Homo sapiens: one gene and its partners. The protein of the gene in region 1 interacts with the protein of each later gene in a pairwise test. Each region holds a gene or a part of one and is shown in the gene's direction. Other genes may lie near its edges.

Evidence for each region.
Region 2: the proteins of TSPAN12 (region 1) and RFT1 interact in binary tests that used the Homo sapiens proteins (3 or more experiments, as listed by UniProt).
Region 3: the proteins of TSPAN12 (region 1) and CDS2 interact in binary tests that used the Homo sapiens proteins (3 or more experiments, as listed by UniProt).
Region 4: the proteins of TSPAN12 (region 1) and TMEM182 interact in binary tests that used the Homo sapiens proteins (3 or more experiments, as listed by UniProt).

Annotation. Positions count from the first base shown.
Region 1 is NC_000007.14:120,855,126-120,863,050, reverse strand, and holds the start of TSPAN12 (tetraspanin-12), read left to right. Parts: upstream 1-4,906; 5' UTR 4,907-5,231; intron 5,232-5,842; exon of another isoform or gene 5,843-6,216; intron 6,217-6,217; 5' UTR 6,218-6,287; coding exon 6,288-6,353; intron 6,354-7,925. UniProt on the Homo sapiens protein: Regulator of cell surface receptor signal transduction. Plays a central role in retinal vascularization by regulating norrin (NDP) signal transduction.
Region 2 is NC_000003.12:53,127,421-53,134,853, reverse strand, and holds the start of RFT1 (man(5)GlcNAc(2)-PP-dolichol translocation protein RFT1), read left to right. Parts: upstream 1-4,418; 5' UTR 4,419-4,453; coding exon 4,454-4,516; intron 4,517-7,433.
Region 3 is NC_000020.11:5,129,985-5,137,007, forward strand, and holds part of CDS2 (phosphatidate cytidylyltransferase 2), read left to right. Parts: intron 1-7,023. UniProt on the Homo sapiens protein: Catalyzes the conversion of phosphatidic acid (PA) to CDP-diacylglycerol (CDP-DAG), an essential intermediate in the synthesis of phosphatidylglycerol, cardiolipin and phosphatidylinositol.
Region 4 is NC_000002.12:102,793,023-102,800,045, forward strand, and holds part of TMEM182 (transmembrane protein 182 isoform a precursor), read left to right. Parts: intron 1-4,840; coding exon 4,841-4,978; intron 4,979-7,023. UniProt on the Homo sapiens protein: Negatively regulates myogenesis and skeletal muscle regeneration via its association with ITGB1. Modulates ITGB1 activation by decreasing ITGB1-LAMB1 interaction and inhibiting ITGB1-mediated intracellular signaling during myogenesis.

The DNA of each region.
Region 1 (7,925 bases):
AACTCCTGGCCCAGCCTCCCAAAGAGCTGGGGTTTCAGACATGAGCCACCAAGTCTGGACAAAAGATCTCTTATATTCTATAAATTTTGCTTTCTGAAGAGGAAGCATGCTAATGAAGTTATAAATTTTTGAGAGCCAAAATTATGGTAGAACTCTTGGTATCTCCTAGCACAGTTCTGAGTTTGTAGTAACAATTCAATAAATATTTATTAAATCTGTGGGTGAAGTGAGTCCAAATTTCTAAACTTTGCATGAAGGTCAGGTTTCAATAAAGTTTAAGAGAAAAGTTTTCTAGGATTTCATAGGAGGGTACTGATTTGGGCACTTCTTTAAAGAATTACCTGGTGTGTAAATGCAAATGACGATGCTGAAAGTAAGCTTATGGCATGGGATGGAAATGATGTGATACGAGTTTTCTCAGGGTCCTTTGCTATTGCCATGAGGTTCCTGCTTCAGTGGTTCTTTCAATAACTAAGAAACTTTGCTAAGTAGTGCCCCAAAATGGTTGGCTGAGAGCTGGGTTGTCCTAGCAGTGAACAGGAGAGAGGATGGTACTATGCCTTCCTTTCTCTATCCCTCAGTTCAAATAAAAATCTGACTGTGTTCAGTTATCTACCTTCCTCTCTTTGGCCCTGTGCTTTAGAGAAGGGCTGTCCCAGGCACAGGTAATACATCTTGATTGGTTTAAAACCTGGCCAGTCATGGTGGCTCACACCTGTAATCCTAGCACTTTGGGAGGCTGAGGTGGGTGGATCACCTTAGGACAGGAGTTTGAGACCAGCCTGGGCAACATGGTGAAACTCTGTCTCTACAAAGACAAAATTAGCACGACGTGGTGGTGCATACCTGTAGTCCCAGCTTCTCGAGAGGCTAAGGCATGAGAATCACTTGAACTCGGGAGGCAGAGGTTAAGTGAGCAGAGATGGAGCCACTACACTCAAGCCTGGGTGACAGAGTGAGACTCTGTCTCAAACAAAACAAAACAAAACAAAACAAAACAAAACAAAACAAACCAGTTATGGTAGAACCATAGTTCTTGTGAATAATTGGTAGATATATGAGTATGTGACCAGGTTCTAGCCAATCAATCAAAGGGATAATCTGCTGCAGAACTCCTGGGAGAGGTTTGCTAGATCCTAAGAGAAACTCATAGGAGAAAATACCTTCTTCCTTTGGAAGTAATGGTAACTGAAAATGATGCTTGAATTTGCACAGCCATCTTGTGACCATAAGAGGAGGTACCTGAGTATAGTATGATTACTCATTGTGTGTGTCAGGAGAGTAAGGAGGAAAAAGAACTGATTCCTTGATATCACTACTGGGCAGATGAATCGCTATTCCTGGACTCATTGTTATGTGAAACATATTTGTTTTTGTGGCTCTTTGAGTGCATTTGCTAGTTTGCATAGGGAGGCCAGATTCAACTAATACAAATGTAGGGTTTGCAATTCAATTTGAATTTCAGGTAGACATTGAATAATTTTTTAGTATATGTATGTCCAGTGCAATATTTGTCCCATGCAACATTTGGGACATGCCTATACCAAAAAATAAAAAATTGTTGTTTATCTGAAATTTAAATCTAATGAGGTGTCTTGTATTTTATCTGGCAATCCTAAGCTTACAGTAGAAAGCAGTCTACTTAATTCAGTAATGAAAGGATTTTCTCAGGTCTTATTAGGTCTGTATACTCTTTTAGAAGTGAGGTGAAAGTAGATTTACCAGTCATAGTTTAAGTACACATATTTGAATTTCAGCTTCATATTCTCGAAAACTAACTTTAAAAAGTTCGAAAATTTTCCTCTTAAGTCTTGTCCAACCAGATTTGAAATTTTATTGTAATGCAGATAAACAGTGGAAAGAATCAGACAGATCTTAGAATCTCAGCTTCTTTATTTACTACCTGTGTGGGTCTGGCAAAAATCAGCTATCTGAATTGATTTCAAGTATCTCAACATATAGTTATGAGGAATTAATAAGATAAATTGTGAGAAGCACCTATTATGTCAGACACATGTAATTTGTTCAAAACACATTAGGTGTCTATCCCATATTAATTGTAAAGTACTGGCTTAGGAGTACTTGTGAGGGTCTTGTACTAAGAAGGAATAGCAACTCATACATCCAAACTCCTGTGTTATCCTTTTTCTCTCCACAACTTTAGCAGAATGAATAGAATAAGATATGAACAAACAAGCTGCCATACGGAGTGAGGAACTTGTATTCTCTTACATATAGCTGAGTTTTACTCCTGACACTGGGACTGACATGTATGTGATTCCTTGTAAATGCTTATTTTATTACTTTTTGATGTCATTATTATTGTTATTATTATTATATAATAAGAAAGGATAGTTTTGCCTTTTCTTGGAGGGTAAGAACTTGTCTTAGTATCTTCAGCATGAGGCACAGTAGATACCACCACTGAAATGATACTTATTGGAGAACACCTGGCCACAGAATTGGGTTCCTGACTAATGGGTAGTAAATAGACCATACAATTTTCCTAATATGTTATTACATATTCAAATTTTTATGTGCATATTATGATATTTCTATCCTCCTTTTGTTCACACACACAAAAAAACAGATCTCACAGAGAAAAATATAGAACCCTCAGAATGACAGCTGCGATGTGAAGTCTTACTGTGCTTCCACAATTCTGGGAAAGAGAAGAATTGGAGAGGGAGGGAAGAACAGCTGCCTTCAAGTAGTTGAAGGGCTGTCATATGGGAGGAAGGCTTGCTCATGCCATGGACTCCAAGGGCGGAACTAAGGTTGAAGGGTAGAAGTTAAAAGGTGGTATGGTCAAGTTTAAGCAATAAAAACTGCCCATTACTGCAATGTCTCAAATGTGGTGAGGTCTCCTCTACTGAAATGTTGATTCACTGTCTCTGATGACCATTTATCAGGAATATTAGAGCAGTAACTACAGCTCTGTTTTCTTCTTAACTTGTAAAATGGGGATAATAATCCCAATTTATCGACTCACAGGAGAGGGATTTGATCCAACGAAATCTAAAGAGACCCTTTTGCTAGTTTTTAGGCAGCTGTAAAGCCCTCGTTGCAGGGTTTTCAAATTTTGCTGCAAACTAGAATTACCTTGGGAGCTTGGAAAACCCTGTGTGTCTAGGCCTCACCTGCAGAGACTCCGATTTAAGTGGTATCAGGCATGCCAGAGAATTAGGGTTGTTTCAAAGCTCTCCAAGTGATTCTCGTGTACAACAATTTCGAGAACCATTAAACTAGAGTACTAAGAGCCATTATTCTGGATTTTACTTTGGAATCTAGGTTGGACTACAGATGTGACGTTGAGCAACTACTTTATCTTGGATCTGTATTTCTTGTTTACCAGGAAGAAGAGGACATGCATACTTCTAAAGTAACTTCCTCTAGTATTTTATTACTTTAAGGCAGTTGACCCTTAAAGGTATACGAATTAAGGAAAGGGCACTTAACTACCTTCTAGGAGTAGAAGAGGATCTCTGCTTTGACACATGGGAATTGTTGGCACTCTTTTTCTCAGTTTTAATAGCAGTCATGGACTCCTTTCAATGCGGGGATGTTTATACCTCTCCGGGGAATGTATGGCACCAACAGCATTTGGATGGCTGGTTGTTTCAGCAGTCCTTTGCTTAAAATAGGCATGCACCCTAATTTGAGAAGAAACTGGCAGAGGATAAAAGTGGGTTTCTTTGCTCTTCCCCAGTATTCTAGAAGCTGCTTCATTATCAGAGTTGGAGTCATCTGATGGATAACTGGACATGTTTCTTGGTGTTTTTTTTGTGTATGGCTATACTTCTTTATACTCTTTTGGGTTGCTGTCTTACATACTGCTTAGTGACTTGCTTACCAATAATTTTCCTAGCCTAACCCAGGACAACCATGTTGTCTTTTGGTCTTGACTTTTCCATATGAGACTGCATGTCTTATTGTCACTCCAGTCATGCAGCAACTAACTCTAGACAGGCAGTCATGGACATAGGATTCCATTTTTTTTTTTTTTTTTTTTTCTGCAAGGAAATCCAAGGACTCCAGTTATTAGGTCAAAGATGTTGCTCGTATTCCAGGTAATTCATATTTGCTGGTGAAGTTTTATTTGCCATGCAGTGCCCACAAAAGTAATCCTAGAAATGAGCAGTACTGTGAGGCATAGCACAACACATCCACATTTTATGTGGAGGATATGATCCAGTGGCATTTTATTTAGTGTGAAACTTCTGTCTTCTAAAAGGGAAGATTCTTTTGGAAGGATGGTCTCCTGCTGTGTAATACTTCATGAATTTCTAGTTTAAAAAAATTAGATTTTCCAAAGATCCACTACTATGTACACATTTCAAAATAAATCACCCAGTTAACTCAAAACAATCTTATCGTGAGAAATTTTGGAAAGCTTGAGTTACTTCTAAGAGTTAAAAATGTTCTTTCCTCCTCTTCTGCATGTCAGACTGCACATGATTACTCTGATGTTTCCGTAAATGCTATTAGTGCACTATGAAAGTGGGAAAGAACTTAAAAAAAAAAAAATCCGGGAGGGCAACAAAGCAATAAGAAGGATCATAGGGCACCATGTTAATAACAAATCACAGGAGGTGGCTCCATAAAGGTTGTGAAAACTAGTTTCTCATTGCAGGAATTGGGTTGGGCCACCCCTTCACCCCCCTTCTCAAACACAAATATTATCATATAATAAAAGCCTGCTTCTCTATGCTTATAACCCAGCCTCCATTCCTTCGACGCCACCATTTTAAAGGGATTTACTGCACGGACTTCTCCCAAGTTCCTAGGCATTATCTTCTGGACCCTATCCTGCAGAGGTGAAGCGTCCCTTTGGGGACTCTCGCTGGGTGAGAGGGACAAGAAACACCCACTAGGACCCAACCCCGGCAGCCAGCGGCTCGAGCATGCGCTGAGAGTTTGTGCAGCTGGCCCTGGCTGCCGCCGCTGCCTCGTCCGGACTCGGAGAGGACTTGGGAGGGACAGCGGCGCTGGGAGGTGGCTTAGCAGAGACTTTCCAGCAACTGCTGCCCAGGACTTTTTTTTTTTTTTTTCTTTTTCCCAGGAGGCGGCGACGGCGGCGGCGGGGGGAGAGGAAGAGAAAGAAGCGTCTCCAGCTGAAGCCAATGCAGCCCTCCGGCTCTCCGCGAAGAAGTTCCCTGCCCCGATGAGCCCCCGCCGTGCGTCCCCGACTATCCCCAGGCGGGCGTGGGGCACCGGGCCCAGCGCCGACGGTAAGTGGCCACGCGTCTGTCGCCTTTCCTGCCCGCTGTCCCGCCAGCCCGCCGGCGGCTGCCCTCCGCGCTGTGTGCTAAACTACTTAAGGGCTGGCTCTGGGGCTCCCTGCCGCCGGCGCTTCCCCTCGCGCCCTGCCGGGGGCGCGCGGACGCGATGGCTGGGTCGGTGGCCGCGCTCGCTTTGTGCTCCGCGGGCGGCTTTGAGCGAGGGGTCGCGGGAGCGTCCCGGGCGGGGGAAGCGGGGTTTGAATGACTAACCCGGCGTCTGCACAGCTGCATCGGCCCTAATTCCCCGGCGCCCCCCGCCCCCCGCCCACTGTCCCAGGCTAATCCATCATTCTGGGGCCGAAAACATCATTTCTCACGTTCTCCCAGAGAAACCCTAGTAGCCGGGCGGAATCTCAACTCCGCGCTGCCCCCTCGCCCCCGCCCCCGCCCCCGCCCCGCCGCCCCAGTCCCTTGCATTCACACCCGAGCTGCGGGACGGGGTAGAGGGGTGCGGAGTTGGAGTGCCCAGGAACTGTCCTAACTAGAAGGGCGCTCATTCTCTCGGGCTTGCCGGTGGCGCCTCTGACGTGTCCGGGGTAGGGGGCAGTGTGGTTTCTCACCTTCAGGACAGTGCCGAGCACAGCTGTCCTCGAGGAGGGGCGTGGAGTGAGGGAGGTTTTCAAGAGCGTCTCATCAGAATGCACAGGGCTCCGCCGCGTGTCCCCTGAGAACGCGAGTTTACTGTGCGACTTCATTCATCCGGATAGTTGCTCTTTTCTTTTCCCAGCAGGTGTTATCTGAAGCCGGTTTGGAACTTTTGGGAGTTTAGTTACCATTATGATTTTAACAAATGATTTTTGATGAGGCGATGTCTCGAATGCACTGGGCCTCGGGACCCTCTGGACCCTGCTGAGGGCGGGTGGAGGAGGGACGGGCAGGCTGTGGGAAGCGTGATGGTGAGATGTCCCGTGTTCTCTCTCCCCCGCCCCCTGCAGATCGCTGCCGTTTTGCCCTTGGGAGTAGGATGTGGTGAAAGGATGGGGCTTCTCCCTTACGGGGCTCACAATGGCCAGAGAAGATTCCGTGAAGTGTCTGCGCTGCCTGCTCTACGCCCTCAATCTGCTCTTTTGGGTAAGTAAGTTTCACTGCACCAACAGGTGGGAACGGCTGGCTCTGGTTTTCTGCAGCCACCGGATAATGCGCCAAAGGGCATGGCTAAGCATTAATTAATTACATGGGATAACACCCTTTATTTTTCAGAGAAGTAAAATTTGACCTTCTTAAAATGCCTTTGATCTAGCTCAAGTTCCATTTGTAATTAGAACAAAGAAATCCACCCCTGGATACTACTGGCAGTAAAATTAGACTTGAAGTTAATCTAGGGATATAAATAAATGCACGTGCTTCTACTCATAGATAAGAAAATTATGACATACTACTTAGGGAACTGCTTGTTTGCGGGAATTTTAGATAATTGTGCAAGCCATAAATTGTTTCTTTACATCTCTGTCGCCTGTAAAATCTAGTTGGGCCAAGTCTTAATATATTTTTTGTGGGCGGGGACGAGGGGGAGGTGGTGGTGGAATTCACACCCAGATAACCTATCACAGAAAGGCTGAGTAGATTTGTCTAGGGGATTCCATACGGTCTGAAGGGTGATTTTTATGTAACTAATTCTAAGTTGGCAAAGTTTAAGGAATTGTGTGTATGCTTTTGGAAAATCCCATAACCATTTAAGGAAATAAAATACATAAAATGTAACAAGCTCATGGAAATCTTTATGCCCTATGAGTTAATGACTTTTTATGCTTTAAATCTTAATAAAGTATGATTAATAATCGTATTATTACTTATAAAACTTAGGAAAATGTAACAATTTAAACAGTAAATGTTGCTTCAGGAGGCTGCCATTCTTAAGCAAATTGTTCTTTCCATTTTTTTGTGTTCTATTAATAATTTTATTCAAAATTTTCTGTTACAAATTTTATTGTGCAATTTATTTATGTGGCTGACTGGCTGGCGTGCTGACTGGCTGGCATTGCCCAGCCTTTTTTTCATAGGGCTATTACATGTGGTCTCTAGAAGATGACATTTAGGTTGAACTGCACCTTATAGATGGCCCCATTTTAAAGGATAAATTAAGTCTTACTTCAGTGAGTAATCTGAAAATATCTAAAATGGCAGCATTCCTTTTCTCAACATTAAAGCATTAATTTCTCAAAATTAAAGCATTGGGTAGTTAAATTCACCATTTGGAAATGTAAAATCACAAGTTGATCTTATTGTAGTTTATACTTCTTAAAAGCTTGATTTTTAAGTGAATCATTAAATTACCTGGATCATTAAAAGTTATTAAGAGTTTAAACTCCATTTCTTTAAGATGTATGATAATTATCACTCCTGTTTACTAGTTTTTCACTTTTCTACATTGTGCTTTTTAATTATAGAATCATCACATTCCACTTCTAAAAGGAGCTTTAAAGATGGCCTGGTTGAACGTCCTTCCTTTGTGAGTGAGGAAATTAAGTGCAGATTAAGTGACTTGCCAAAGATCAGATAGTCCAATGGTGGCAGTGCCAGGAACAGAATTCAGCTTTCTTGCCCCTAGACAGTGTCTTTCACTTGACCCTTACTGAGTTTTGAACCTTAGAATTACTAAGATTGTTGTTGTTGTTGTTTAATAAAGAATAAAGCTTTGAAAAA
Region 2 (7,433 bases), on another chromosome or scaffold:
CCTGCCTCCACCTAGCTGAGATCCATGGCCCAGCTGGCCAGAGGTTCCACCCTGTCTCCTGGCCCACTAGCAGCCTCCCTCCCTGCTCCTCTGCCCTAGGAGCCTAATTGGCTTGGCACCAGCTCTGGCACTTCCCTCCAGCTTTGTAATAAAATAGGTGGCTTGGGTCAGATTTCCCTGGCAGGGAGGCTACCTGGCACAGACGCAGGAGGCGGGGAGGAAGGCTGGGGAAAACGGCTCCTTCAATGACCACCAGTTACAGCCTGGTATTCTCAAGGGGCCACTTCCTCTCCAAGAGGACCAAGAGTACAAGAGCCCTATGTACTTGTCTTTCTTCCTTTCCTAGTCCTTCATCATTCATTTATTCCAATGCACTTACACATGCATTCATTCATTCAATATTGAAATGTTTACTATATCCCAGGTGCTCAATGGTGATCACCAGGAATTGGCAAAGTTTTTCTGTAAAGGGCCATCTAGCAAATATTTTCAGCTTTGTGGACCAACCTATTCTGCTGTTGTAGCAAGAAAGTAGCTATTGATAATATGTAAACAAACGGGTACGTGTGCTATGTTCCAATGAAACATTATTTGTGGACACTGAATTTTTTTTTTTTTTTTGAGACAAGAGTCTCACCCTGTTGCCCAGGCTGGAGTGCAGTGGCATGATCATAGCTCACTGCAGCCTTGATCTCTCCAAACTCAAATGATCCTCCCACCTCAGCCTCCTCAGTAGTTGGGTCTACAGGCACGCACCACCATGCCTGGCTAATTTTTGTATTTTTTTGTAGAGATGGAGTTTCACCATGTTGCCCAAGCTGGTCTTGAGCTCCTGACCTCAAGCAATCCACTCACCTTGGCCTCCCAAAGTGCTGGGATAACAGCCGTGAGCCACTGTACCTGGTGGACACTGAAATTTGAATTTTATACCATTTTCATGTGTCATGAAATATTCTTTTGATTTTTTTCCAACCATTTACAAATGTAAAAACTATTCTTAGCTTGTAGGCCATACAAAATGCAACGTCCAGTGGGCCATTACTTGCCAGCCCTGAGCTGAGTCCTCCATGGGCAAGACCATGGAGTATGCAACTCCCAGTGGAGCGTGCAGGCCAGTATCTCCAACAGGGTCAAGACCTTCAGAGATCCTCACTGGGGAGAGGGAATGCCTCCAAGCCTACCACAGCTCGACTGCTGCAGCCCTCCCAGACTCCACTCTCTCAATGCCACATATGTTCTCTGTGGCTTACATATAGGGACTCTTAGGTCTCCTTTACAATCAGAAGCTTTTTTTGAAGGGAGGAACATTACTGTTCACGCATTTGGAATCAGAAGGGACCCGAGTTCAAATACCTCCTTGACCATTCCTTTGCTGAATGACCTTGGATGAGTTACGTCACATCCCTGTGCTTCAGTTTCCTGATCTGCAGTCCCTCTCTCATAGGTTATTGACAGGATGGAGTACACGCATGTAGAGTGCTCAGACAGGTGCCTGACATGGAGTCAGTGGTCAATGTTTGTGGATTCTCCTCACAGTTCCTTTTTCCCCACCCACCCCAGAACCCAGCACGGCTCTGGGCTCTGCTCAGTCCCTCCTTGCCAAGTGTTAACTTCCAGAATAAGAGAAAAAGTCCCTGGATTCCTCACCCAGGAGCCCCACAGAGTCCATACCTTGGGGTCCTAGAATGCTTTGCCCTTTAGACTTAGCTTGGAGCATTTCCCCTTTGACTTCTTTGCTCCTAGCAAAATGATCACTTCTTCCCTCCCAAAGCAGCTTACATGGATGCCAGGCTTAGGAGTGTGTGCACATGATGAACTCTTGGCTGGTTCTACTCTGGGGATGAGCTGTAGAGGAGGAGACTGCTTGGCTGGGAATAAAGGAAGTGGGAGGCTGTCTCACCTGCTGGCCCACAGTCCAGGGGGGTGGGAAGGCTGCCCAGGTCAAGGTCTTTAGCATCTCAGCCATTATGCCAAATACCTGGACCCTCCAGCACTTTCTCTATTCTCCAAGTACACTCCTCCCCAGGTGGGTGCCCAACTCACTCATCCTAAAACAGCACCCCTCTCTCTCTTCCAAAGCCTCTAGGATCTTACCTGGTTTCATTCTTTCGTAGCACTTAGCCCTATGTGAAATTTTATTTGTTTGTTAGAGTTTTTTTCAGTTTCCCTTTCACTAGAATTTAAGCTCTCTGAGGGCCAGACTTGCCTGAAACAATCCTTATGACTATTTTTACAGGACAGATAATATCCCTATTTAGTAGCTGAGCATACTGAGGTCACCCAGTCAGTGAGTGGCAGAATGAGGATTCAAGGTCAGTTCTCTCTGACAGACAAAAGCTCACATTCTTGGGCAGGGTGCAGTGCGGTGGCTCATGCCTGTAATCTCGGCACTTTGAGAAGCTGAGGTGGGCGGATCACTTGAGTCCAGGAGTTGGAGACCAGCCTGAGCAACGTGGGAAAAACCCATCTCTACAAAAATCACAGAAAAAATCAGCCAGGTCTGGTGCTGCACGCCTGTAGTCCCAGCTAATCGGAAGGCTGAGGTGGGAGGATTACCTGAGGCCAGGAGGTGGAAGCGGCAGTGAACCAAGACTGTACCACTGCACCCTAGCCTGGGAGACAGAGCGAGACCCTGTCTCAAAAAAAAAAAAGAAAAGAAAAGAAAAGAAAAGAAAAGAAAAAGAAAAGCTCACATTCTGGGCCTCCACACTAAGACAGAGCTCATTTCACCTGGGAAGATGGGAGTGATAGGCTTTGAGTTCCACAGTCTGTTTCCAGCAGCAGTAGCAGCAGTCATGTGTCAGGAGACATTTATAGGAGCCCTAAGAATGTTCTGTACCGCTACTTCAGGAAGCAAAACCAGGCAGGCTGCACTTCTGCCCTCTTGGAGCTCATGGGCTGATTATATAGAGACACATATTCTAGTCTTTCTGCTATAATGCAGATTGCATTAGGAACTATAAAGGGGTACAGAGTATTTTAGGGGTACTGTCTTGATTTGCTTGGGCTGCTGTAACAAAATACCATAGACTGGGTAAGTCAAAAACAGAAATTTCTCTCACAGCTCTGGAGGCTGGAAGCCCAAGATCAAGGTGCTAGCCAGTTTGGTTCCTGTTAAGTGTATGTTGGGCGCCTTACATTTTACAAAGCCTTCTTCGTGGTTGCAGACAGCTACATTCTTGCTGTATCCTCAAATAGTAAACACAGAGATCATTTTTCTGACATCTCTTTTTATAAGGACATGAATCCCATTATGACGGCTCCACTTTCAGGACCTAATTACTTCCCAAAGGCCTTACCTCCTAATACTATCACACTGGGGATTAGGCTTCAACATATGAATTTTGAGGGTACACAAACATTTAGTCCACAGCAGGTACCAGCTGTGGTTGGCCAGGAAAGTCAGGACAGTGTGGTCTAGGAGGGCAAGGGGTGCTGTCAGGGAAGACACTTTGGACAAAGAGGGTGGAGGAGCAAAGGCCAGTGAGTCACCGCCTGTTTGAGGACCAGTAAGGACTCGGAATGGCTATGGCCTAGATAGTGTTGGGAAGGGCAATGATCGTGTGAAAGGTAGTAGAAGATAGGTTGGGGCCAAATCATGTGAGGACTGAAAGAGATTGGGGAAAGACTGGGCTTCCTACAGCCTGCTTGGTAGATAATAAGAACACTGACAGAACAGCAGCTGATTGTGTATGTTGGGCGCTTTACATTTTTTTACAAAGCACTTCCAGTCCTTCTTCCACTCTGCCCTCACAATTTCTAGCATACAGGCAAGAGTGATAAGTTTAGGATCAGGAGCCTGGTATCCACTTAGTCAGGAAACAAGTTGTGTAGATTCGAACAAGTCACTTCCCATCTCCAAGGCTTTACTCATCTCTAACCACAGGGGCCAATTCTCAGAGCTTTCGGAAGGATTTCACAAAACCATACACATAACAGTGCTATATCTAACTTCTGGTCCTCAGTTCTTTCTCTGTTAAATGAGGACAATTCCTGTCCAGCCTAATTCAGAGGGTCTGTGGCTGTGATTCTGTAAGCAAAGGTCAATGGTGAGAATCTTCTTAACGGGCCAGTGAGAAGTTTGTTCCCCTTTTGGCAGATGAGGCCAGGAAAGTTAGTGCTTCTTGGTTGGTGGCTGAAAGCCTCAGAGAAGGAACTTTGGATTCTTTAACGGTATCTCTTAGTACTCGCCACACTATTTCGTTTATACGGGGAAGAGAGGGACAGACAGCGCACAAGCGACAGACAGCGCAAAACCTACCGAAATAGAAAGAGCCAGGCGCCATAACAGACGGCCCGAGACAGGCCCACTTAAAGGACCAGAACTTCTCGTGCCCCGCCCCCCTCTCTCAAGGCCATCAATCAGACAGCGAGGCGCGCCGTGACGCCATCTTATCGCGACTAAACGGAGTGGCGGCGGCATTTCCTGGTGTCTGAGCCTGGCGCGGAGGCTATGGGCAGCCAGGAGGTGCTGGGCCACGCGGCCCGGCTGGCCTCCTCCGGTCTCCTCCTGCAGGTACTCTCTGCCCTTCAGGTTCCAGCTTGTACTGCAGCCGGGATTCGCGGGATGGCAGCCCTTGGGCCCTTGAGAGCCTGCCCCAGGGCCGACCCAGTCCCGAGGTGGACCCCGCAATGGAGGGGGTGGGGGGGTCGACCGGAGACGGTGGCATTGATGAGGGGGGACCCTGGCCCGGAGATAGGAGCCTGCCTTTAGAGTCTAGGCCGGGTGACTGCAGACAAGCCGCTTTCCTTCTGAGCATTCTATTTCCCATATGGCAGTAGGAGTGAATTAGATCAGGTGGCGGGGGTGAGGGACTGGTATTTCGTGCTCGAGAATCTGATATTTTTCAGGCAAGGGGTTCATTTCCTTCATCAAACACCTTCCTCAAACTTTGAGTCCCACTGAGTTCCGAGAGTCCATATGGCATAGCTAAGAAGAGAAATCTGGAGTTAGGCTTGGATTGCTCCGTGACCCAGGACAAGTGACTTCACCTGCAGAGCCTGAGTTCCTCACTAGTAAAATGGGGGTAATAATATGTCGTACTTAGCTCATAAGCAGGGATTGATTGGGATCATTCAAATAAACGTACTTAACACAGTACCCGGCTCTTAGTATGCATTTAATACATGTTGGCTGCATCTTCTGTTTATGTGATCTTGGACAAGTCACTTCCCTTCTTGGCCCTAATTTTTGTCATCTGTCAGGTATGATACAGGCCAGTTAGTCCAAATGGTATCTGAAGATTCTTTCAACCCCAGGAGCTGAACCTCTTAAGTCAAGTGGCTCAGTATCTCTCTGTCTCACTCTTGAGCCAATCAACCCTACTTCACACAAGTCCCGAATCTACCCTACCCCTTATCTTAGAGAGGCACATGGAGGGCAGAAGAAAGAACCAAGCAGAATGGGGCTTGAGTTTGGGCCTTGTCACTTGCTAGATGCCTGCCTTCGGGATAAATCCGATGACTTCTGTATCAGTTTCTTCATCTTAAATGAGAATCATAGTGCAACCTCACAGGGTCATTAGGAAGATTAGATGAAATCATGCCTCTTAAGTGCCTGGCACACTACAAGTACTTAATAAATGTAGCTATTTTTATTAGGGTAATAAGTATTTTTAAAATAGTCAATGTAGGAATGAAATGAGATAACCTATGGAAAGCATGTTGAAGAGTGCCTTGCACGTGATATGTGCTTAGTAAATGTTAGCCATTCTAAGTTTACCTAGGGATTTTTTTTTTCTGTTTCACTACATAAATAACTGAGTTTATTGTTTTATCCACAATGTTGGTTTTTTTTCAGCCTTTGATAATATCTTACTACTCAGATAGGCTTCATAAAACGAAAACAAGTTATAACGGAAAACACACTGGACTACGAGTCAGGTGGCTTACCTGTAAGGTCAAGCTGGGTCATTTACTTGCCGTGTGACAGTGAGGAAATCACTTAACCCTCAGTCTTGCTTCCTGTGCATTTACCTCGTTGTTTTTAGTGTCAAATAATTTAACAGATGTGAGAGAGCCTTTTTGTTAAAACTGTAAAGTTGGCTGGACGCGGTGGCTCATGCCTGTCATCCCAGCACTTTGGGAGGCCAAGGCAGGAGGATTGCTTGAGCTCAGGAGTTGAAGACCAGCCTGGGCAACATGGTGAAACCTTGTCTTTACAAAAAATACAAAAATTAGATGGGCGTGGTGGCATGCACCTGTAGTCCCAGCTACTCAGGAGGCTGAGGTGGGATGATCTCGAGTCTGTGAGGTTGAGGCCTCAGTGAGCTGTGATTATGCCACTGCACTCCAGCCTGAGCAACAGAGTGAGACCCTGTCTTAAAACAAAAGCTGTAAAGTTCTTTGCAGAAGTAAATGAAGGCTGTGTTGCTAATAAGGACTGCAGTGTGTGGCAAATACTGGGTGGCGTAAGCAACCTCAGTTTCATTAGCTGCAACCTTTATTCAAACCAATTAGGAGACATGGATATGGCCTGGAACATTAAGTTTCTTAGACAGTGGTAACTTTGAGGTTAACATAAGTATGTACACATGGTGTTTTGTTTTTTGTTTTCGAGATGGAGTCTCACTCTGTTGCTCAGGCTGGAGTGCAGTGGCACTATCTCGGCTCACTGCAACATCCGCCTCCCGGGCCCAAGAGATTCTCAGGCCTCAGCCTCCCAAGTAGCTGGGATTACAGGTACCTGCCACCACACCTGGCTAATTTTTGTATTTTTAGTAGAGACAGGGTTTCACCATGTTGGACAGGCTGGTCTCGAACTTCTGACCTCAAGTGATCCACCTGCCTCAGCCTCCCGAAGTGCTGGCATTACAGGTGTGAGCTACCGCGCTCGGATTTTTTTTTTAATAACCATATTTTTATATGGTTTCTTGAGTGTTTTCATTCTTGTATGCTTTCTCGAATTACACTGTAGACACTTCAGGTAGCTTTGTGGTTACATTTTATTCTGCAAGAATTTGAGAGCTTGTTCTATCTTAATTCTAAGCCACCTATGCTGAAAGTATTAATGCCTTTCATTTGTATGCACTTAAAAAATGCTTTCACTTCTACAGTCTCATTTCTTTTAAAAATATTTCTTGTAGAGATGAGGTCTCACTGTGTTGCCCAGGCTGGTCTCAAATTCCTGGCTTCAAGTGATCCTCCTACCTTTCAGCCTCCCAAAGTGTTGGGATTTTCTTTTCTTTTTTTTTTTTTTTTTAAGATGGAGTCTAGCTCTGTCGCCCAGGCTTCACGCCATTCTCCTGCCTCAGCCTCCCGAGTAGCTGGGACTTACAGGCACCTGCCACCACACCCAGCTAATTTTTTGTATTTTTAGGAGAGGCGGGGTTTCACCGTGTGAGGCAGGATGGTCTCGATCTCCTGACCTCATGATCCGCCAGCCTCGGCCTTCCAAAGTGCTGGGATTACAGGCATGAGCCACTGCGCCCAGC
Region 3 (7,023 bases), on another chromosome or scaffold:
TTTTTGAGACAGAGTTTCGCTCTTGTTGCCCAGGCTGGAGTGCAATGGCACAATCTCGGCTCACTGCAACCTCCACCTCCCGTGTTCAAGCAATTCTCCTGCCTTAGCTTCCCCAGTACCTGGGATTACAGGTGCCTGCCATCACGACTGGCTAATTTTTTTGTGTTTTTAGTAGAGACGAGGTTTCACCATGTTGGCCAGGTTGGTCTCGAACTCCTGACCTCAGGTGATCTACCCACTTTGGCCTCCCAAAGTGCTGGGATTACAGGTGTGAGCCACCGTGCCCGGCCCATAGTAAACTTTTAAAAAATCCTGATTTATTCTGTTTCATAGTTTGGGAAACACCTACTTCCATGACTTTGGCTTTGCCAATATTCTTGTGTTAGAACCCAAGGAAATTAGAAATAATAAATTTTAAGGAAATGCATTATGAAACAAGAACTTTTTAATTTCATAGTAGAAGAATCCAGTGAACAATTTTCAAGTCAGTGCTTTAAAAGCTCTGGAATAGGCTGGGCGCGGTGGCTCACGCCTGTAATCCCAGCACTTTGGGAGGCTGAGGTGGGCAGATCACCTGAGGTCAGGAGTTCGAGACCAGCCTGACCAACGGGGTTTTAGTAGAAACCCCGTCTCTACTAAAAATACAAAATTAGCCGGGCGTGGTGGTGCATGCCTGTAATCCCAGCTACTCAGGAGGCTGAGGCAGGAGAATCGCTTGAACTTGGGAGGCAGAGGTTCCGGTGAGCCGAGATTGCGCCGTTGCACTCCATCCAGCCTGGGCAACAAGAGCCAAACAACGTCTTAAAAGAAAAGAAAAGCTCTGGAGGCTGGGCGTGGTAGCTCACGCCTGTAATCCCAGCACTTTGGGAGGACGAGGCGGGTGGATCACGAGGTTAGGAGATCGAGACCATCCTGGCTAACATGGTGAAACCCCATCTCTACTAAAAATACAAAAAATTAGCCGGGCGTGGTGGTGGGCGCCTGTAGTCCCAGCTACTCGGAAGGCTGAGAGGCAGGAGAATGGCGTGAACCTGGGAGGCGGAGCTTGCAGTGAGCCGAGATGGCGCCACTGCACGCCAGCCTGGGCGACAGAGCAAGACTCTGTCTTAAAAAAAAAAAAAAAAAAAGCTCTGGAGTAAACTTGAAAGATTCCTCAAAATGTTACAGTTGCTTAACTGCTGTGGCAAAACTGTCTTGTAAATAGAAAATCATTAGTATCAAAATAATCTGGAGCATGTTTATTTATAAAAGTCAGAAGGTATTTTGTTATATTTAGCATCTGAGAATGGAATTTTCAAAGCCAATTGCTAATAAAGGAAATGTTCTCCTCTGGGAACTGTGCTTATAATTTTAAAGTCCCAAAGCACAGTATAGTTGCCAAACTAAGAAACTTGGAGTTTAGGCTTTGGGAATGATCCTCTTCCTACCCAACCATATTTTTCTGATGGAGCTTAGGAAAGCAAAGGATGAGATATGGTCTGAAAGATTGGCATCTTAAAATTTATGATTGAGTTGGCATTTCAGGAGATTTTGTTTCGGAAGTTAGCGTATAGGTTCTGGGGTTTTCTGCTTTACTTAATTGCTGAAGTGCTATTTAAATTAGAGCTTTACTTATTTCAAGGCTTCCTTTCTAGATAGATGAAACCCATATGGAGAGGAAATAGTGACATCATTTAGAAAGGGGAGTTTAAATCTTAACTGAAGATAGCGTGTAAGAGCAGGGGCTTGGGTCAGTTACATCTACCTTGAGCCTGGGCTCCGCCACATAAAGGCTGTGTAACTTTGAGTAGATCATGGAAGTTGTGGCAGCCTCAGTTTGTCCATCATTAAAATGGGGGTCATAAAATTGTATGTGCTTTACAGGATATTCATGTGGATTAAACGTATGTATGGGCTGACAGCAGAGCTTGTCACATAATATGTTAGCTATGTTGCTACTGATTAAAATAGATTTTTATAGAAAAAACTTTAATATTCATCTTACACACTTGAAAGGTGATTAAATCTTCAAGTTATATATATTTGTAGAACCTATTCATATTCATTACCTTTTAAGGAAAGTTTTATAGAAAGGACTTAGCCTTCTATGACCTATCTTCGGTTTATTTTCAATTTTAATTTTTTTTTTTTTGAGATGGAGTCTCGCTGTGCCACCCAGGCTAGAGTGCATTGATGTGTTCTTGGCTCACTGCAGCCTCTGCCTCCTGGGTTCAAGTGATTCTCCCATCTCAGCCTCCCGAGTAGCTGAGATTACAGTCACATACCTCCACGCCCAACTAATATTTTTATTTTTAGTAGAGACAAAGTTTCACCATGTTGGTCAGGCTGGTCTCAAACTCCTGACCTCAGGTGATCCACCCGCCTTGGCCTCCTGAAGTGCTGGGATTACAGGCGTGAGCCACCGCGCCCGGCCTCTTTTTGGTTTATTTTCTTGTGGAATTTTTCAGTACTCCGAATCACAGGCTTTAACTGTAGAAGGACCACTGAACACTGTTGTATGCAATTACCTTCTTTTATAATTAAAAATGGTTTTCAATAGACTTTGAGATTGAACTACTCAAATAAAATATTAAAGAACTATAACTACTTCAGGTATAAGAGAAATGCTTAATTTTTTTCAAGAAAATTTTTTTATGTTGAGAAATAATTTAGGAATTAAAAAAATCAGTAAACCTTAACTATGATTCCCAGGCTTAACAGGGAGAGGAGGTGAAAGATTATTTTCTCATATAACCAATTATTTTATGTTTCTTATTTTTGTTGCTCAAACAGTATGATTTTATTTTAAAAACTCAATTACTGCATGATTTTTGACTATTTAAAATTAGTTTTTCCAAAATCTATTTTTAAAAAATGTTTTGTGTTTGCCCAGGTTAACATGGTATTTCATTAGAAGAATTTTTATCGGCCGGGCGCGGTGGCTCACGCCTGTAATCCCAGCACTTTGGGAGGCTGAGGCGGGCGGATCACGAGGTCAGGACATTGAGACCATCCTGGCTAAGACGGCAAAACCCCTTCTCTACTACAAAAAAAAAAAAAAATTAGCTGGGTGTGGTGGCGCCCGTAGTCCCAGCTACTCAGGAGGCTGAGGAGAATGGCGTGATGGCGTGAACCCGGGAGGCGGAGCTTGCAGTGAGCCGAGATCCCACCACTGCACTCCAGCCAGGAGGACAGAGCGAGACTTCATCTCAAAAAAAAAGAATTTTTATCATCTTTAAAAAATGTTAAATTGCTCTCCTTGGTTGTTAGGACTAGAAGGGACTTTAAAGGTGTTTTTTATTTTTAGGAACAGGGTCTCACCTTGTTGCCCAGGCTGGAGTGTAGTGGCACAGTCATAGCTCACTACAGCTTTAAACTCCTGAGCTCAAGCCATCCTCCTACCTCAGTCTCCTGAGTAGCTCAGGACTACAGGCCTGAGCCATGGCACCCGGCTTGAGGTAGTTATTTTATAGAAGAGGATGCCACAGCTCAGAGAGTTTAAGTTATTAGCTCAAGATGACTTAGTTGGTTAGATACAGAATGGTTCGTATTATGAAGGTCTTCTATTTATTTATTTTTTGAGACGAAGTTTCGCTGTTGTTGGCCCAGGCTGGAGTGTAATGGTATAATCTCAGCTGACCGCAACCTCTGCCTCCTGGGTTCAAGCAATTCTCCTGCCTCAGCCTCCTGAGTAACTGGGATTACGGGCATGCCACCACGCCCAGCTAATTTTGTATTTTTAGTAGAGATGGGGTTTCTCCATGTTGGTCAGGCTGGTCTCGAACTCCTGACCTCAGGTGATACTCCCGCCTTGGCCTACCAAAGTGATGGGATTACAGGCGTGAGCCACCGCGCCTGGCCTATGAAGGTCTTCTAATTCCCGGTTGTTGTTTTTTATTTTTTTCTCATAGAATTAATTTACAGACTTTAAAAGCTTCTTTATTGATTAACATTGATAGATATGATACCCAAATGTTACCTATTTTTCTTATTTGGCTACAAAATCAAAAAAATACTATATAAATCTTTCAAAATGTTAAATGTTAAAAAGGTCTCAGAGTAAATGTGGAGACTCTTTGCAGAAAAAAATGTATGTGTTTTATAGAGAAAGTTGATTAGTTTCAGTTTTCCTGGTTATCGGATGACTGTGATTTAGACATTTGTGAGCACTTTCCTGGGAGTGGCCACTCTGGTATCCTTGAAAGGCACTCCCGGCGCAGTGCTTGAAGACCACAAGGCGCCTTACCCAGGCAGTGGGTGAGGGTGCTTGGAAGAAATGCTTTCCAGTTAATGACTGTTAGCATGAGAACCATTTGTTCTAGTAATAAGCAGTCATTCAGTATTCAACGCTTCTCTTTAGAACATTCACTGACTGTAGGGTCTGCTATGGACGGTGTCTGTATTTCTGAGAGGGGCTGGTGTTATCAGTGTTCATAAGGATATTATTCAGAATTTTATTGCCTGTTTTGACTCCACATAATCAATTTTTTCCCTACTGATTTAAAGAAATAATACAATCTTTTTTAAATCAATAATATTTAAGAGTTTTATTTTTATTTATCTATTTATTTTTTGAGATGGAGTTTCTCTCTTGTTGCCCAGGCTGGAGTCCAATGGCGTGATCTCAGCTCACTGCAACCTCTGCCTCCCGAGTTCAAGTGATTCTCCTGCCTCAGCCTCCCGAGTAGCTGGGATTACAGGCGCCCACCATCACACCCAGCTAATTTTTATATTTTTAGTAGAGACAGGGTTTCACCATGTTGGCCAGGCTGGTCTCAAATTCCTGACTTCAGGTGATCTGCCTGCCTTGGCCTTCTACAATGCTGGGATTACAGGCATGAGCCACCGTACCCAGCCGACTGCATATTTAAATTGGTAAGGTAGAAAATGAGCATGAGAGTCTAACAGCTGATGGATATGGGAACATAATACTTGATAAAATCATTCAGAATATGTTTGATAAACAAGAAGATTGTATAAAACCTGCACTGTCCTACTAATGTAAAGCATTTCTCCTCCCTCACTTTATTCTCAACCTTACAACTGCCAGAAATTATATAATCTTGAATATATTTGAGAAACTCTTTTTAAAATGAATCTTGTAACTAATTTCTTTTTTGAATTTATATATATAAATATATACATACTTATTTTATAATAGAGACAGGGTCTTAAAATGTTGACCATTGAACTCCTGGGTTCAAGCGATCTTCTCGCCTCGGCCTCTCAAAGGGCTGGTACAGCGTGAGCCACCGTGCCCGGCCATTGTAACTAATTTCACAGGGCAGATAATCATCCTTTAAACTGTTTGAAAAGATTTGAGTGTTACTGTTTCTGGTTTTCACACTTTTCCATCTTTTCTAGGATCCACGTAGGTGGAGGAGATTCCTCTCCACAGTTTGTTAAGCTACATTCTATGTTGTTAAGGTCTCCCAGCCCTTCTGGACTGGCACTAGAGGCTGTTGGGGGTGAAAAAGTACAGCTGTTTGTGTGTCATACTGCCTCTGGTTCAGAAAAGAGACGGACACTGACTCTTCACTATTAATTTTGCCAAAGTCTCCTTGAAAGAATGCTAATTTGTTCCTGGCACTGGGCAGGGTTCCTGCCTTCCAAGTCTTGTCATGTGGTGGTTACTTGGCTGGGGTAATAGTGAGGCACCCCCTCCCCACCCCCACGTATGGTCCCCACCGGGCAGCTTCCTATGCCAGTCACTGATATTTGTTCTCATGTTGTTTGCCCCAACAGTAGGGATGGCATTGAGCCCACTAAGTTGACTGACCTTTTGAAGAAAGTTAAACTTTATGGTGTTATTTTGAGTAGGCAGTCTGTGGTGCAGAATTTGTAGGCAGCAAAGGGTATTCTGTGAAGTTTCCTTTCTCCCGCCTGCCTCTCCCCAGGGACAGCCTCATGCCACACTGTGGTTCTCATGAGCACTGCTGTCTGTGTGGAAGGACCTGACCTGTCCTACCAAAGTCAGACATCTTTTTGATTTGTTGTCTTTGGCAGAAGCTCCTTTGTATTAAGGTCTCCATAGGGCCAGCTTGGGGCTTCTCTGTAAAGACTTTGCTGAGGTTTTGAGAGTTCCTGGGACTTGGGATTTACGGGCAACACTCTCTGCCCCTGGGTCTCTGATGTGGAGAGGATGTCTGCCATTGACACCGAACCCCTGAGTGGGCAACTCTCAGAGCCATATCTCCACAGTCCATGCCTGGCTAGTCCTGTGGTTTCAGTGGTCTACAAGACATTCCTAGGTGCATGCCCTTCAGTCCACACAAACTGACTTTGTCTCAAATCTGAATTCTCTCATTCTACTCTTACCACCCTCCTTCAGTTTCTTTCTTCTGCGATAAAATCCCAGATGACTCGGTTACTCAGGCTTGAAATCTCCTATTCCTTTGTTCCCGTGCCCAGGGCAGGATGCAGATTCTAACCAGGTGTGACTTGGAATCCTTATCTGTTTGTTGTTTGTTGTCTGTTTGTTGCTCTTGGAGACTTCAACATTTCAGGACTGCAGTATTGTAAATGCCTGCAGTATCCTAAATCCGAATTCCTTACCTCTCCTGGAATCCTTATCTGTCTTTTACTCTTTGAGATTTCCCAAATTTCAGGATTTATTGCTTGCCTTATTGTAAACCCTGTGAATTGAGCTCCCTCCTGTTAGGATTTGCTCTAGGTCCCTCCTAATCCATCTTGTTCTTTGTATCTTTCAGGAGTTCTGAAACTGCCCTAATAATTATTGGGGGGGTGGGGTGGAGTGATAGAATTCTGGCTCTTTTTCATAATGCTTAAACTTTAAGATCCTTTGTAGTCTTCTGTCTCTCATTTCCTTCCAATTCTTGTTTTAGGTTCAGGGGATACATGTGCAGGTTTGGTACACGGGCAAATTGCACATTGCTGAGGTTTGGTGTACAAATGATTTTGTCACCTAGGTAGTGAGCATAGTACTAGATGGGTAGTTTTTCAATCCTCACCAGCCTCCCACTCTCCACCCTCAAGCCCTGGTGTCTCTTGTTCCCCTCTTTGTGTCCATGTGTAGCTCCCAGT
Region 4 (7,023 bases), on another chromosome or scaffold:
TCTGCCGTCTGTGTGACCTGGTTCAGGATCCCTGAGCCTGGGCTTCCCTGGCTCATCTGATTCGGGCTGTCAGTGCCTCATGTGAGCTTCTGCTCTGCTGCTCATCACCTCACTTTCTCAGTTTTCCAGTTCCTAGGGGATCACAAGGATGATTCCAATTCATCTTTCAAACTGTTCTTCAGAAGGCATGGGTCAGAGGTCACCGTGCATTGGCTCTGTGTCAGGTATCTGCTCCCATTTACTGATGTTTTAGGTTTGTAGGAGTAGAGTCATGTGATATGGAACATGGCCACTACCTTTTTAGGAGGTAAATGGACAGAAAACGTTCCCATGAGAGATGGTATGAGAACTTCGTAGAACTTTCTGTATCAGTAGTCTACTTTGCCCAAACATGACTACTGCACTCTAAGCTATCATTTAAAGAGATGTTCCAACCTCAGTGGCACATCAGAAACAGTGTACAGCCATCCAGTTGTCCCTCAGCATCCACATATAATTGTTTCCCGGACCCATCCCCCTGAGGATATGAAAATCTGTGAACACTCAAGTCCCTGATATAAAATGGCATAGTATTTGCATATAACTTATGCACATCCTCCTGTATACTTTAAATCATCTCTAAATTACTTCTAATATTTACTACAATGCAAGTACTAGGTAAATTGTTGCTATACTGTATTGTTTTACAATTTGTATGATTTTTATTGTTGTATTGACATTTTTTGTTGTGTTTTTCCTAAATATTTTTGATCCATGGTTGGTTGAATCCACAGATGCAAAACCCAGATAGAGAGGGCTGACCATACAAGCTAAGGGAAAGAATACATGTTCCTATTGCTGAACACAAGACCCCCTGCTGTGCAGTGATAATGCAATCTTGATAATAATAGCAATAAAAGCCACCACACATGGTGGCTCATGCCTATAATCCCTGCACTTTGGGTGAAGGTGGCAGGAGGATTGTTTGAACCCAGGAGCTTGAGGCTGCAGTGAGCTGTGATTACATGACTGCACTCCAGCCTGTATGACAGAGCAAGACTCTGTCTCAAAGAGAAAAAGAAAAAAAGAAATGCCTTTTATTGGTTTCTTATTATATGCCACACACTTCACATACATTGTAAGTCATTCTTCTAATAGTTCTAAAGGATGGACACAAACATCTCTATTTTACAGAAAAAGAGACTTCTAGGAGTTTCAGTAACTGGTCCAAAGTTACCTTGCAAGAAAGTGGTAAATACTCAGGTCACTCGGACTCCAACACCTATGTTTTTCTACTGTATTATGCTGATTTTTTAAATTTTAACAAATATCATTTAAAGAAACTAAGACAAGAAATAGATTCTACTTTATTTACATGGATATTAATCATTTCTGCTGCTCTTCCTCTGTTTCTGAAGTTTAACGTGCACTCCGGTGTCATTTCTCTTTAGCCCAAAGAACTTCCTTTAGCATTTCCTGTAGAACAGGTCTGTTGATAACACATTCTACTCTTTCCTTCTTCACAAATGGCTTCACCCTACCCTTCTTTCTATATTTTCACCACGTGCAGAATTTTAGTTGAAGGTCTTTTCTTTCAGCAGCTTAAAAATGTTTTCCCACTGTCTTTTGGCTTCCATCATTCTTGATGAGAAAGTTAGAGCCTTGGGATTATTTCCCCATATGTTTTATGTAATGATTTTTTCCTCTGGCTGCTTTCAAGACTTTTTTTTTGTTTAGAGTTTTTGGTAATTTTATTATTATGTGTCTTGACTAATTTATAGGAGTTTATTCGCTTTGGAGTTTGCTGAGTATCCTGTATCTGTAAATTTGTGTTTCATCACATTTGGAAAGTTTTCAGGCATTACTTTTATGAATATTTTTTCTTCACCAATATCTACGGCCTCTGCTTTAGGACTCCAATGACACAAATGTGAGAACTTCTGATATTGTTCCACAAGCCTTTGAAACTTCATTTATTTTGTTTTCAATCTTTTTTCTTTCTGTTTCTCATATTGAATAATTTTTATTGCTTTATTTTCAAGTTCACTTACTCTGTCCTCTCTCATCCCTGTTTTATTATTGAGTCCATTGCATGGGTTTAATTTCAGATATTGTGTTTTCTAATTCTAAAATTTATTTTTGTAATTTATAGACCTTATAATTTCTTTATATTTATTTCAAGAGTATTCACCCCAGTCTATAGAAAATGGTTCTAATAACTACTTTCAAGTCTGTCTGATAATTCATATATCTAAATCATCTTTGGTTTGGCTGTCTCTTTGATAATTGATCAGATTTTCATTATTGTTGGTATATCAAGTAATTTCAGGTTGTATCCTGGACACCTTGAATTTTATGTTGTCAAAATTCAAAGTGTTAAATTCAGTGGAGAATTCACTGTTAAAATTCTCTGGATAATGTTGATTTTTAAAAAATTTGATTATTATTATTTTTTCGGCAGGCAATCAACCAACCCAATCTGTCCCTTTCTTCTGTGGTGGCAGTTTCAATTTTAATTCATTTTTCAAAGTCTATGTGATGCTGTTTGTGCTGTGCACCCTGGGGCGCACACCACTCAGGGCTTGCTCTGGAACCTGGACGGTCTTCAAACTGTAATTTGGTTCTTAAAGACTTTGCTATGCTTCTTGGTCTGTTTCCTGTGCATGTGCAACTTGGGGGTGTGCTTGGTATTTGTGTAGGTTCAAACGTGGAATTTTAGAGTCTTTTCTTTAGCTCTTTTCTCTGTGGGATTTTCTTTACACCCTCTGGCTCCTCGGACTCTTTTTCCCAGTTTCTCTGGCCAGAAAGGTTGAATTCTGAGTTCTGGCCTCCTGCGCTGTGGCACAGTTCCATGCAGCCATGACACATAGCAAGCAGCAAGAGAAAGGAGAAAAAACATAACCATGATTCCTCCCTCCTCTTTGCACAATGAGGGTTCCTTTTTGTGATTCCTCTATCTAGAGGGTTGGGTCATCATTTGGGATTTTAAGTGCCCACGCCTCCACTGGGGCAGCAGTGCAGACCTGTATTTAAAGCTGATCTGGAGGCAGGACTAAGGGAATAAAAAGAGGAAAAAATAAACATGGGGATTTACTCTGGCTTTAGGGGGCTATTTTCCTAGATTTCTAGGAAATGAATTCAACTAAAGATTTTTGCTATTCGCACCTTTTACACAGTTCCCCATTCGCTTGCCTTCAGGCCAAATCCATGAGGAAAAAAGAAGAAAATCAGATAACTTTGCAACTTGATCTCTGTTAAGACTTGACTTTCCTTCTCACTCCACTTGCTATTATTTACTTTCAGTCCTTATATGGTTGCTTGTCATACTTACCTAGTTTTAGTTGTGATCAGTACAGTCGTAGAATGGATTTCTTATTCTCTGAGCTGCTTCTTGTTGTTAATGATTATACCCCTAGCACTTGGCACAGAAGCTGTCCTGTGAAAGATAACCTCAACCTATTTCTAAATGAAATAAATGAAAATGTAAAATGTGAGACTCACCAATTGCCTAATAAACTATGGTAGGACAAGGACAGCAAATATTTGGCCACACTCTGCAACTCGTAATTTCCATACTCAAAGCTGACATTAGTATCTCTTCACTGCCCTGTTCCCTGCTGAGCCTGAATACAACTGCAGAATATTGTCTAACACAGCAGCCCTGGAAACCATGCCAAGTGGCCAGCACTGGTATGGGAAGTGAAAGCCTATCATGTATTCCTGTTTTCAGGACTTGGTTATTCACATAAAAATCCGAGCCTTCCTTTTCCATTTAACTGAAGTGACTCCTCTTCTCAAATTTCCATCCTCCCATCCTCTTTCCTGTAAAACTCCAGTTGATTGATAGATTTCTTCTTTGCCAGGAAGGCTTCTTGAGAAAAAAAAATATTCTTTTCCTTCTTATCAAGTTGTATATTTTCTTAAAATATAACTTGACTAATATGTTTCACTGAGCGTTCCCCCATCTATACTATCAAGAATTTATTTTAGCTTTTTATCCTTTTGGAAATGATGAAATTGGTTAAGATTGGTAATTATCCAACTCAAAAATGATCGTTAGAATTCCTTTTTGTTTGATTACCATATATCACCAAACCTACTATTTCTTACCAGCTGTTTCCATTAATTTAGCCTTGCTTGTCCTTGACTCCTATAGACTCCTATACTTCTCATTTTGAATCTAAGTGAAAATATTAATAGAAAGAGGTAAGCCTTAAATACATCTGATTTAAATTATCAGATTTGCTTGGAAAGCATAGCTAAACGAACTTCTTTTATGGTTTTGCTTGTCATTTTTTATTGCCTTAGACTGTTTTCTATAGAGCCAACAATCTAAATAGAAGTGGATATTTTTGTTGTGGTTAGGGGCTTGGGGTGACTATTATCAGCTCTCAGAGATAATCATGGTACAAATATATCTTAGAAGAAGATGTGAGGTAGTGTTTGTAAATAATGTGAATGCATTTACATGTGTTTGGACATTCGGTATGAAACACTTCTAGGCTACCCAACTGGGTACTTAAATGGGAGAACTCTTTAGAAGCAAGAACCTTAGGTCTTCTTGCTTCTAAAATGGAAAATCGTGATGGAAAAAAGAGCTCCCACAGTATATTAAGCATGTGTGTGGTACAAACATTGAGCAAGAGGAGTTGATTGAAGGTCACCAGCTTGGACATCACTGATTCCAAGGTCATCTGATAAGATCTCCTGTTTGTTCAGACCCATCCCTGGCATTCTATCTAGCAGTGCCATAGCTGAAATTAGAAAAATGAAGATGAAAGCAACTGACTGTGACAATCTGCTGTGTACACAATCTAAGTGTATTTTTCTTTCTTTTCTCTTTTCCTCCTGGGGTCTCCAGTTTACCGTGGTTTCTGGGCAGTCCTGATGCTCCTGGGGGTAGTTGCTGTAGTCATCGCAAGCTTTTTGATCATCTGTGCAGCCCCCTTCGCCAGCCATTTTCTCTACAAAGCTGGGGGAGGCTCATATATTGCTGCAGGTACGTACGGTGCAATGGGTATGACTTTCAGCCACGGTTTTTCTTCATGTCTTTCTATTTTTCATTTCTATATTCAGGCGTCAGCCTTCTAGTAACAGTAACACAATAATATTTGTATACAATACTTCTTGAACACTAACTAATAATATTTGTATACAATACTTCTTGAACACTAACTGTGTGTCGGACACTTTTCAGGGACTTTCCCTTTTCCACATGCTGACACATTTAACCATCATGATAGTCTCTGCTCACTGTAAGGCCATTATTATAAAGAGGAGAACACTGAGGCTTAGAGGAGAAAACTCTGTCACTGACTCACTCCAAGGTGTGTAAGAGACTGTTAACCTCTTACCCTATTAATTTTCTGTCTGTAAATGGGGATCGTAACATAAGTCTCTGTAACATATCAGCATATGATATGGGTAGGCATTTTCTGAGCTCTTCAAAGATAGCCCTGTGATGATATTTATGATAAGCATACACTCATGATTTATCATAGGTACAAAAATATTTTTCTACATCACTCCCATTCATTTTCTTAATTGTTTGTTGATGCCAGGTGTGGTGGCTCACACCTGTAGTCCCAGCACTTTGGGAGGCTAAGGTGGGTGCATCACTTGAAGTCAGGAGTTTGAGAACAGCCTGGCCAACATGGTGAAACCCTGTTTCTACTAAAAATACAAAAAAATTAGCCAGGCGTGGTGGCATGTGCCTGTAATCCCAGCTACTCAGGAGGCTGAGGCAGGAGAATCACTTGAACTCGGGAGGCGGAGGTTGCATTGAGCGAGATTGTGCCACTGCACTTCAGCCTGGATGACAGAGCGAGACTTTGTCTAAAAAAAAAAAATAATTAATTAATTGTGATCCATATGAATTATCTGAATATATTATTTTCTGTGTGAAGCTTGCATTTATTTTAGTTAGGTTTCTAACTAATTTAATTTCTGCTAAAATGATCACACTACAAATAGAAAAGTAATTGAAGAGGTGAGTCTTGTGAATTTTAAGCCCTTTTCATTTAATTAGGCAGTGAAAGCCAGACTATTAACTTGGAAACATAAGCACAGGCTATTATTTGTAAAGATAATTCTAGAAAACTAGCCAAACTTCAGTATGACTGAGACCAAACTGTACATACTATGCTGTATTGTAACATCAAACCAGAGTGACAGAGTGCTCCTAGGTGACACTGTAGTGACAGTTGAAGGAAAGGAACAGAATGGAGAAGGTTACTGTCCTTCTAATCATTGGAAAGATGGCTTGTGATGCTGCCCAGTGTCATTTCATCAGTGCTCAGGTAACACAATACTTTCTGCATAAGATTGTGCTTAATTCTGCAGAGGGAATAAAAATAATAATCAGATCTAGATCCTGTATTTTGTAGGGGCCAAGAGGAACAGAAGGTTCCCTGAAAAATCCACTTGGAAAAGGCAGATTAATTGAAGAAAAGGCATACATATAATTTCATGTGTATACCTGGGAGCTTTCAGATTGAAGACCCAAAAAGATATGGGCAAATTGTCCATTTTTATGCTTAGGTTCAACAAAGGATGGGCAGCTGTGTAGAAATATGATTGGACAAAAAGGGCAGGATCTAATGGTCATAGACTAAGTGGGGAACCCAGCGAGGCCTGTCCGTTTAGCTTCTTCATGGCTTCACTGAGCAGCACGCCTTCCTTCTGGGTGTGGGGCGGGACCCTCTCTGGAATTGGCAAACAAGGTAGGTCCGGTCAATTCCTTTGTCCTTTGTGGCCAATTTTTACACAGAAAGGTGGAGGGAGAGTTAGAGTAATATGTTCAGGTTTCGTGGCTGGCTTTGGGGAAAGGAGTTCTGGTTTCTATGATTCACCTTTGTGGAGAGGGGACCTTTGTGGTTTCTAAGGCCAGCCTCGGGAGAGAACAGGACTGGGAGGCAGGAGGGCAGGAGAAGGTCAGAGAAAAACTTTTGCTCCTGAGGCTGCTGCTGGGGCTTCATTTTGGAGTTTTGTTTCCTGAGCCCCAACAGTTTAAAGAGCTAAAAAAAAAAATCTCACTCTGAGAAG